Homo sapiens: one gene and its partner. The main gene of each other region encodes a partner of the protein of the gene in region 2 in a complex. Each region holds a gene or a part of one and is shown on either strand. Other genes may lie near its edges. A codon is read from its position in the direction of its gene.

The links. The genes of interacting proteins can lie anywhere in the genome.
Region 1: the proteins of NUP42 (region 2) and GLE1 are in contact, whole or in part, in a crystal structure (PDB 6B4I), measured with the Homo sapiens proteins. Residues at the interface, in NP_001357375.1 of Homo sapiens: Asp185, Asn186, Val187, Leu188, Phe189, Gln202, Phe203, Gln204, Ser205, Lys206, Lys207, Phe208, Leu210, Gly211, Lys212, Ile213, Pro214, Leu215, Lys216, Pro217, Pro218, Leu222, Leu223, Asn224, Val225; in NP_001003722.1 of Homo sapiens: Ile385, Ile593 (codon at 1,458), Leu598 (codon at 1,443), Asn599 (codon at 1,440), Trp602 (codon at 1,431), Arg603 (codon at 1,428), Ala606 (codon at 1,419), Gln607 (codon at 1,416), Leu609 (codon at 1,410), Asn610 (codon at 1,407), Gln636, Tyr637, Gln638, Val639, Gln640, Lys643, Met644, Ile646, Leu647, Glu650, Asp651, Tyr652.

What each region holds. Positions count from the first base shown.
Region 1 is NC_000009.12:128,535,693-128,539,443, reverse strand, and holds part of GLE1 (mRNA export factor GLE1), read right to left. Parts: intron 3,090-3,751; coding exon 2,960-3,089; intron 2,618-2,959; exon of another isoform or gene 2,489-2,617; intron 1,459-2,488; coding exon 1,354-1,458; intron 1-1,353. UniProt on the Homo sapiens protein: Required for the export of mRNAs containing poly(A) tails from the nucleus into the cytoplasm. May be involved in the terminal step of the mRNA transport through the nuclear pore complex (NPC).
Region 2 is NC_000007.14:23,179,720-23,183,470, forward strand, and holds the start of NUP42 (nucleoporin NUP42), read left to right. Parts: upstream 1-2,328; 5' UTR 2,329-2,366; coding exon 2,367-2,487; intron 2,488-3,751.

The DNA.
Region 1 (3,751 bases), on a different chromosome or scaffold from region 2:
GCATTTCTCTTTATATGGCAATATCTCCATTTAACCAATCAGGTCTTAATGAACTACTCTTCTTTTCCTCTAATGAATGGACGCCTTCCTAAAGGTATGGTATACCTCCCAAACTTAGTAAGGAGAGTATACAGAATACCACTTGTGTTCTCAAATGATACAGGATCATTGTTCATGTATGGTGACTTCAGGAGCTTTTTATTTTTTTTTGAAATAGGGTCTCACTCTGTCGCCCAGGCTAGAGGACACTGGCATGATCACAGCTCACTGTAGCCTCAACCTCCCTGGGCTCAGGTGATCCTCCAACCTCAGCCTCCTCAGTAACTGGGACCACAGGCACACACCACTAATTTTTGTATTTTTTTGGTAGATATAGGGTTTCACCATATTGCCCTGGCTGGTCTTGAACTCCAGAGCTCAAGTGATCCGCCTGCCTTGGCCTCCCAAAGGCTGTCAGCCACTGCACCTGGCTGACGTCAGGAGCTATTAAGGTAACTAGGAACTATTGGCACTATAGATCAAATGGTTCCAGATTTGTTATGGCATGTACCCCAAGGCTTTCTTCTATAAGAAGTGTCTTCTTGGCTGAGTGCAATGGCTCACTCCTGTAATCTCAACACTTTGGCAGGGTTAGGTGGGAGGATCGCTTGAGCCCAAGAGTTTGAGGCTACAGTGAGCTATGATCACACTAATGCACTCCAGCCTGGCTGACAGAGTGAGATCCTGTTCAAGCGATTCTCCTGCCTCAGCCTCCTCGGTAGCTGGGATGACAGGTGTGCACCATCACACCCGGCTGATTTTTTATTTTTAGTAGAGACGGGGTTTCACCATGTTGGACAGGCTCGTCTTGAACTCATGACTTCAGGTAATCCAACCACCTCGGCCTCCCAAAGTGCTGGGATTACAGGCGTGAGCCACCGTGCCCGGCCTTTATTTGTATTTTTAGTACAGACAGGGTTTCAATATACTGACCAGCTGGGCTCGAACTCCTGACCCCATGTCATCCGCCCACCTTGGCCTCCCAAAGTGCTGGGATTACAGGTGTGATCCACCGCACCCGGCCTGGGAGTCCCTTCTATATCCCTAAAACAAATTCCTCTTTTCACTTTTGCTAGAATGTACAATTTTCTGTTCTTTATAATGAAAAAAATCCAGAGAAGCCAAGTAAATATAGTATGGAGTAAAAGTGAAAGCAAGGTTGGTCTACAGCTTGGGAAAAATGTATGACACTGGAACCTCATGCTGTTTTACTATCAGGCCCAAATGCTATGCTGTTTCCCCATTCATGTCACCCAGTGGATCAAGGCTACCTCAACCACTGGCCTTCTCTTGTGTGATAACTGAGTTACGTACCTCCAGGAAGTCAAAGAGGAGGGTGGCTGTCACATCTGACAAGGGCTCCATGTTTAAGATCTGTGCCAACCAGCGCCATCCATGATTTAAGCCATGAGGGTGAATCTGGGAGTAGAGAAGCTTGGTTATCATTGATCTCATTTTGTTTAGAAATCTAAACTCCCAGTGTATCATCCAGCCATTACCAAGTGGAAATGAACCCCAGATCATCCAGCCCTAGCACCTGCCACAGGGCAGAAATAACACAAACTAAACAAATTCTGTTTTTCTTTTATTTTTTTGAGACAGGGTCTCACTTTGTTGTCCAGGTTGGAGTGCTATAGTGCGATCATGGATCACTGCAGCCTTCACCTCCTGGGCTCAAGTGATTCTTCCACTTCAGTCTCCCAAGTAGCTGGGACTACAGGCATGCACATGCCACCGTGCTCAGCTAATTTTTTTGTATTTTATTTAGAGACATGGTTTCACCTTGTTGCCCAGGCTGGTCTCAAACTCCTGGAGTCAAATGACCCACCTGTCTCGGCTTCCTAAAGGGCTGGGATTACAGGCATGAATCTACCTCGCCCAGCCTTCTGTATTTAAATGTTTCAGTACATTGGTTCCCACACATTCTTTTTTTTTTTTTTTTTTTTTTTTTGAGGGAGAGTTTTGCTCTTGTTGCCCAGGCTGGAGTGCAATGGCGTGATCTCGGCTCATTGCCACCTCTGCCTCCTGGGTTAAAGCGATTCTCGTGCCTCAGCCTCCCAAGTAGCTGGAATTACAGGTGCCCACCACCATGCCCAGCTAATTTTTGTATTTTTAGTAGAGACGGGGTTTCACCATGTTGGCCAGGCTGGTCTTGAACTCCTGACCTTAGGTGATCCACCCACCTCAGCCTCCCAAAGTGCTGGGATATCAGGCCTGAAGCTACCTCGCCTTCTATTTTTTAATGTTTCAATACATTGGTTCCCACACATTCTTTATAGGCTCCCTTCAATATGCATGTGTCAGCTTCAGTTTCAGGCATTCCATAGGGTAACAATTAGCCTTATTGACATTTTATTTATTATTCTTGGTACCTTTAGCACAGAACCTGGGACACAGCAGGCATACAATAAAAACTTGGATTTAATCAACTTCTATTTTTTCTCTTTAGGTCTCCGTAACTATTAATTTCTCTGTCCTTCTAATCTGTATTCCCTGAGAAATTAATTGGGCTGGCAAGTCAAAGCCCTGAACCCCAGCTGCAGCTTTCTGAGCTTGTTCTGTCCATCTGTGAAGTAAGGTATGTGATCTAGATGGCTTCTAAGGTCTCAACTAGTTCTAAGATGACAATTTCTTGCTCATTCCTCTTGTAAGAAAATCTTCTAACCTTAATGACTGATTTATAACAGACTCTCCTCTGGTAGACTCTGTTACAAAACCAGCTCTTTAAAGTACCAGGTGATCCAAGAAAGTTCCCTAATAATCAACATTCAGTCCTCTACATAATACCCATGAAACTGCCATATAGTTTATCCTTTAACTAGACTGGCTCTCTGAAAGAAGGCCAACATTTCCTGTGGGAGGAATACACATGGACTGTGGTCTAACCTCTCATTATTGACAGTAAGCCTCTTTTACCTACCTCCTGTCGGTTTCCATATGGCCACCGGAGCTGGATGATAGCAGCGTAGAGACGGATCATCCCTGACATGCGTTTTAGAAAGTTGTCTTGCTGCTCCACTTTGGAATCCTTTACTTGGTAACCAAGCATCCTATACGGGAAGAAAAAATTTGGCCGGGTGTGGTGGCTCACGCTTGTAATCCCAGCACTTTGGGAGGCCAAGGTGGGCAGATCACTTGAGGCCAGGAGTTCAAGACTAGCCTGGCCAATGTGGTGAAACCCCATCTCTACTAAAAATACAAAAATTAACTGGGTATGGTGGTGCATGCCTGTTTGTCCCAGCTAATTGGGAGGCTGAGGCATGAGAATTGCTTGAACCTGGGAGGTGGAGGTTGCAGTGAGTCAAGATTGCATCACTGCACTCCAGCCTGGGTAACAGTAAGACTGTGTCTCAAAAAAAAGAAATAAGAAAAAATTCACTGGGACAAGGCCAAAATAAGGGTGACAAATTAGAGATAAATTGCTTTTTTTTGGGAAACAGAGTCTCTGTCACCCAGGCTGGAGTACAGTGGTATGATCAAGGCTCACTGCAAACTTCACCACCCAGGTTCAAGTGATCCTCCCGCCTCAGCCTCCTGAGTAGCTAGGACCACAGGCACATGCCACCATAGCCGGCTAATTTTTTTTTTTGAGATGGAATTTCCATCTTGTCGCCCAGGCTAGAAAGCAATAGCACGATCTCAGGCAATCTCCGCCTCTCGGGTTCAAGCGATTCTTCTGCCTCTGCCTCCCGAGTAGCTGTGATTAAGGCAC
Region 2 (3,751 bases):
GGAACATCTCTGCACCAGAAAGTAAAAAAGTGCTCAAGTAATCATGGGGAATTTTTTTTTCTCCTTTTTCGAATGTGTAAAGGAGCTTAAAGGGGGTCCCATTGGCCAAATTGGAGATGATCTGAGCATCAAAATAAATAATGATAGTAATGGATTATAACCCATTGAATAACATTGGAAATCATGAGTCCATACTGATATAAATAAATAAGTGAATGAGCTAAAAGTTGGATGAACAATCAGATTTTTATATACTTTCAAAGTACCTCCCCACAAAATTCTTATTAATAACAAAAAGGAAAAGAATAACTTTATGGTAGAGCAGCTTGGCAGACACCACCTTAAGCAAGTAATCCATTGAGCATTACAGGTAACAGGACAAATTGAAATTGTGCACAACCTGCAATGTGAAAACCGCAGCATCACTTCTGTGATAATCCTGACAAAGATGCATAATCTGAATCTAATCAAGAGAAAACATCAAACAGACCTGCACTAAGGAACCTCTACAGTATAAGCAGCCTGTAGTCTTTAATAGTGTCAAGGTCATGAAAAGGAAAAACAAAAAATCTTCCAAATTGAAGGAGACACAAGAAATATGACTAAGCAACAATGATTCCGAACTGAACCCTTTTCCTCTAAAGGACAATATTGGGACATTTGGCAAAACATAAATGGAGTCTAAGGATTAGAGAGTAGTAGTGCATCAGTATCAATGTCCTAATTTTGTTGGCTGTGTTGTGGTTATGTAGAATGCCCTGGTTTGTTTGTAGAAAATATACAATAAGTATTTGGATCATGGGGCATTAGGTCTGCAACATAGTCTCAAATGGTTCAGGAAAAAAGTTCTTTGTACTGTTATTTGTAACTTTTCCATAAATTTGTTTCAAAATAAATGAATTGCATTGATTAAAGAAAATAAAAAACTAGTTTGGACAAGTAGTTCCCGTCCTGTAGATTCTGCTGTCTTCAAAATCCAAACAAATTACATGAGCAAGAATGATGGCTCACTCCCAGCTCAATAATCCTAAAACCACCAGCACAAACCTGTAATCCAACAAAGTCAGATCTATTGACTTATTGCAATCAAGAAGACTGCACACCAGAGGAGCTGTGGTGTGTCTCACCGTACAAAATAAAAGGTAGTTATTGTATGTTTTGGCGGGGAGAGTGAAGTTTAGGTGAAATTTAAATGAAATCTCAAAGCATAGCTGTGTGTAAAGGCATTAACATCAGGTCTGGACGAGAATTGAATGTAGGGCATGTTTCCTTGGAAACTGCAAAGTTAAGAAAATACAGAATGTTTTCAGAACCGTTTATCTGAAGCTCTACACCTGGATAGAAATTGAGGCTGCTTCTCTGCGTCAAAGAGACTTAGATCCTCCAGGCAAGGATGGGACTTTTCACTCGTTCTGATATAATTTCAAATAGCAACGTTTATGTGGACTTGAAAGAACAAGGTTTCGGCCAGACGCGGTGGCTCACACCTGTAATCGCAGCACTTTGGGAGGCGGACGCGGGCGGATCACGAGGTCAGAAAATAGAGACCATCCTGGCTAACACGGTGAAACCGTGTCTACTAAAAATACAAAAAAATTAGCCGGGCGTGGTGGCGGGCACCTGTAGTCCCAGCTACTCGGGAGGCTGAGGCACGAGAACGGCATGAACCTTGGAGGCAGAGCTTGCCTCCAAGCTCTGCCACTGTACTCCAGCCTGGGCGACAGAGCGAGACTCCGTCTCAAAAAAAAAAAAAAAAAAGAAGAAATAACAAGGTTTCTCAGTGTGTAGTAAGAATGTACTTAAGTGGTAATACTTTTCCGTTGCAGCATGTCCTAAAAGAAACATTGTTTCCTCTTAACGTCGTCTGGCTTTATTTGACTCTGTTATCCATCCAGATGAAAGGCTAGGCAGTTTGTTACTTTCTCAGCCCAAGCTAAGTTTTACCGTCTCAGCAAGAACGACTCAGTCTCTCAAATCATAGCTAATTCTCCTCTGAGGGCCTTGCTGAAGTTCTGCGTTTGCTTGCTCCGCTTTCCTCTCATTTTGGACCTCCAGCCTTCCTGTAGTCCGAGGCCCTGCACCGGGGTCAAACGCGCCTCCGGTCTTCACGTAACCGTTCAAGCATCCCTCCTTCCCAGGACACACTCAAAGCGTCAGAGCGGTCCGCTCTTCTCAAGTCCTATTGGCTCAAGTCCATGCGTCTCATGGCACTGCCGGGTGAGAGGCGGAAAAAGGCCTTCCCAGGCGCGAGAAGATGACGTCACAGTAGCCCGGCCGGGCGCCGAGGTTGCCTTAGGGCTCTCTGCCCAGTAACAGGCATCGAACGGTGCAGACTGAAGACGCCCTCCGTCAGCGACGCCGTCGCAATGGCCATTTGTCAATTCTTCCTTCAAGGCCGGTGCCGCTTTGGAGATCGGTGCTGGAACGAACATCCCGGTGCTAGGGGTGCAGGAGGAGGACGGCAGCAACCGCAGCAGCAGCCTTCAGGTGACTCTCCTCTGAATCCTCCGCGGTAACCGAGCCGGGAAGGGTCCGCCGGCGGGGACCGGGCGTCCCGCGTGTTTCCCGCTGCTGGTGACCCCAACGTGCCCGCGTCGCGGCCTTGCCGGCCCTACTGGGCCCTGCACAACGTTTTTAAACCGAGGGTTTTATCTACATATTATTCATGTGGTCCGTTTTTATTGAGCTTCTGAGGACCTGGGTTTGGGCCTGGATGCTTGTGCGAAACTGAGTTTTTAAATCGGAAGTACCTATCGAAACTACCTTGTAGGTAAATGCCGGAATTGAATATAATTTTTACTAAGTTGTTTTTTCGAGGGTGAGGCTAGCAGCTTGGGTCAGAATCAGGACTTCATTTTGGAGAAGTCGTGGACTTCTTTGAAAAAATCTAATAAAACCGGCCGGGCGGTGGCTCACGCCTGTAATCCCAGCACTTTGGGAGGCCGAGGCGGGCGGATCACGAGGTCAGGAGTTTGAGACCAGCCTGACCAACATAGTGAAACACCGTCTTTACTAAAAATACCAAAAAAAAAAAAAAAAAAAAAAATAGCCGGGCGTGGTGGCGCGCGCCTGTAATCCCAGCTACTCATGAGGCTGAGACAGGAGAATCGCTTGAACCCGGGAGGTGGAGGTTGCAGTGGGCCGAGATCGTGCCACTGCACTCCAGCCTGGGCGACAGAGCGAGACTATCAAAAAAAAAAAAAGAAAGAAAGAAAAGAAAAAAAGAAAATCTAATAAAACCTATAGAGCCATACCGCAAAAATGCACCTGCTCATAAATTTGGGGTGAAATTGGGAATGTGGGACGCCCAGTTAAGGGCTATCCGGGAGGTGAGGAAAGGAGATGCGGGGGCCACGTTGATCTAGTCCCTGGGCCTAGATCATTGTCAAAGCTTTTTATCTTCAAGGAAAGGAGAGATTAGACATGAAACCTTAGAACAACACAAGATTTTTAAAGATCGGGTTAATAATTCGGTGCTGTCTCCCTTCCTTCCCCTCCTTTAGGGCTATTCATCTGACCTTTATTTTTTTATTTTATTTTGAGACGGAGTCTTGCTCTCTCAGTCAGGCGGCTCACTGCGACCTCCGCCTCCCAGGCTCAAGCGATTCTTATGCCTCAGTCTCCCGAGTAGCTGGGATTACGGGTGCCCGCCACCATGCCCTTGATAATTTTTGTATTTTTAGTAGAGACAGGGTTTTGCCATTTTGGCCATACCGGTCTCGAACTCGTGACCTAAGGTGATACTCCCGCT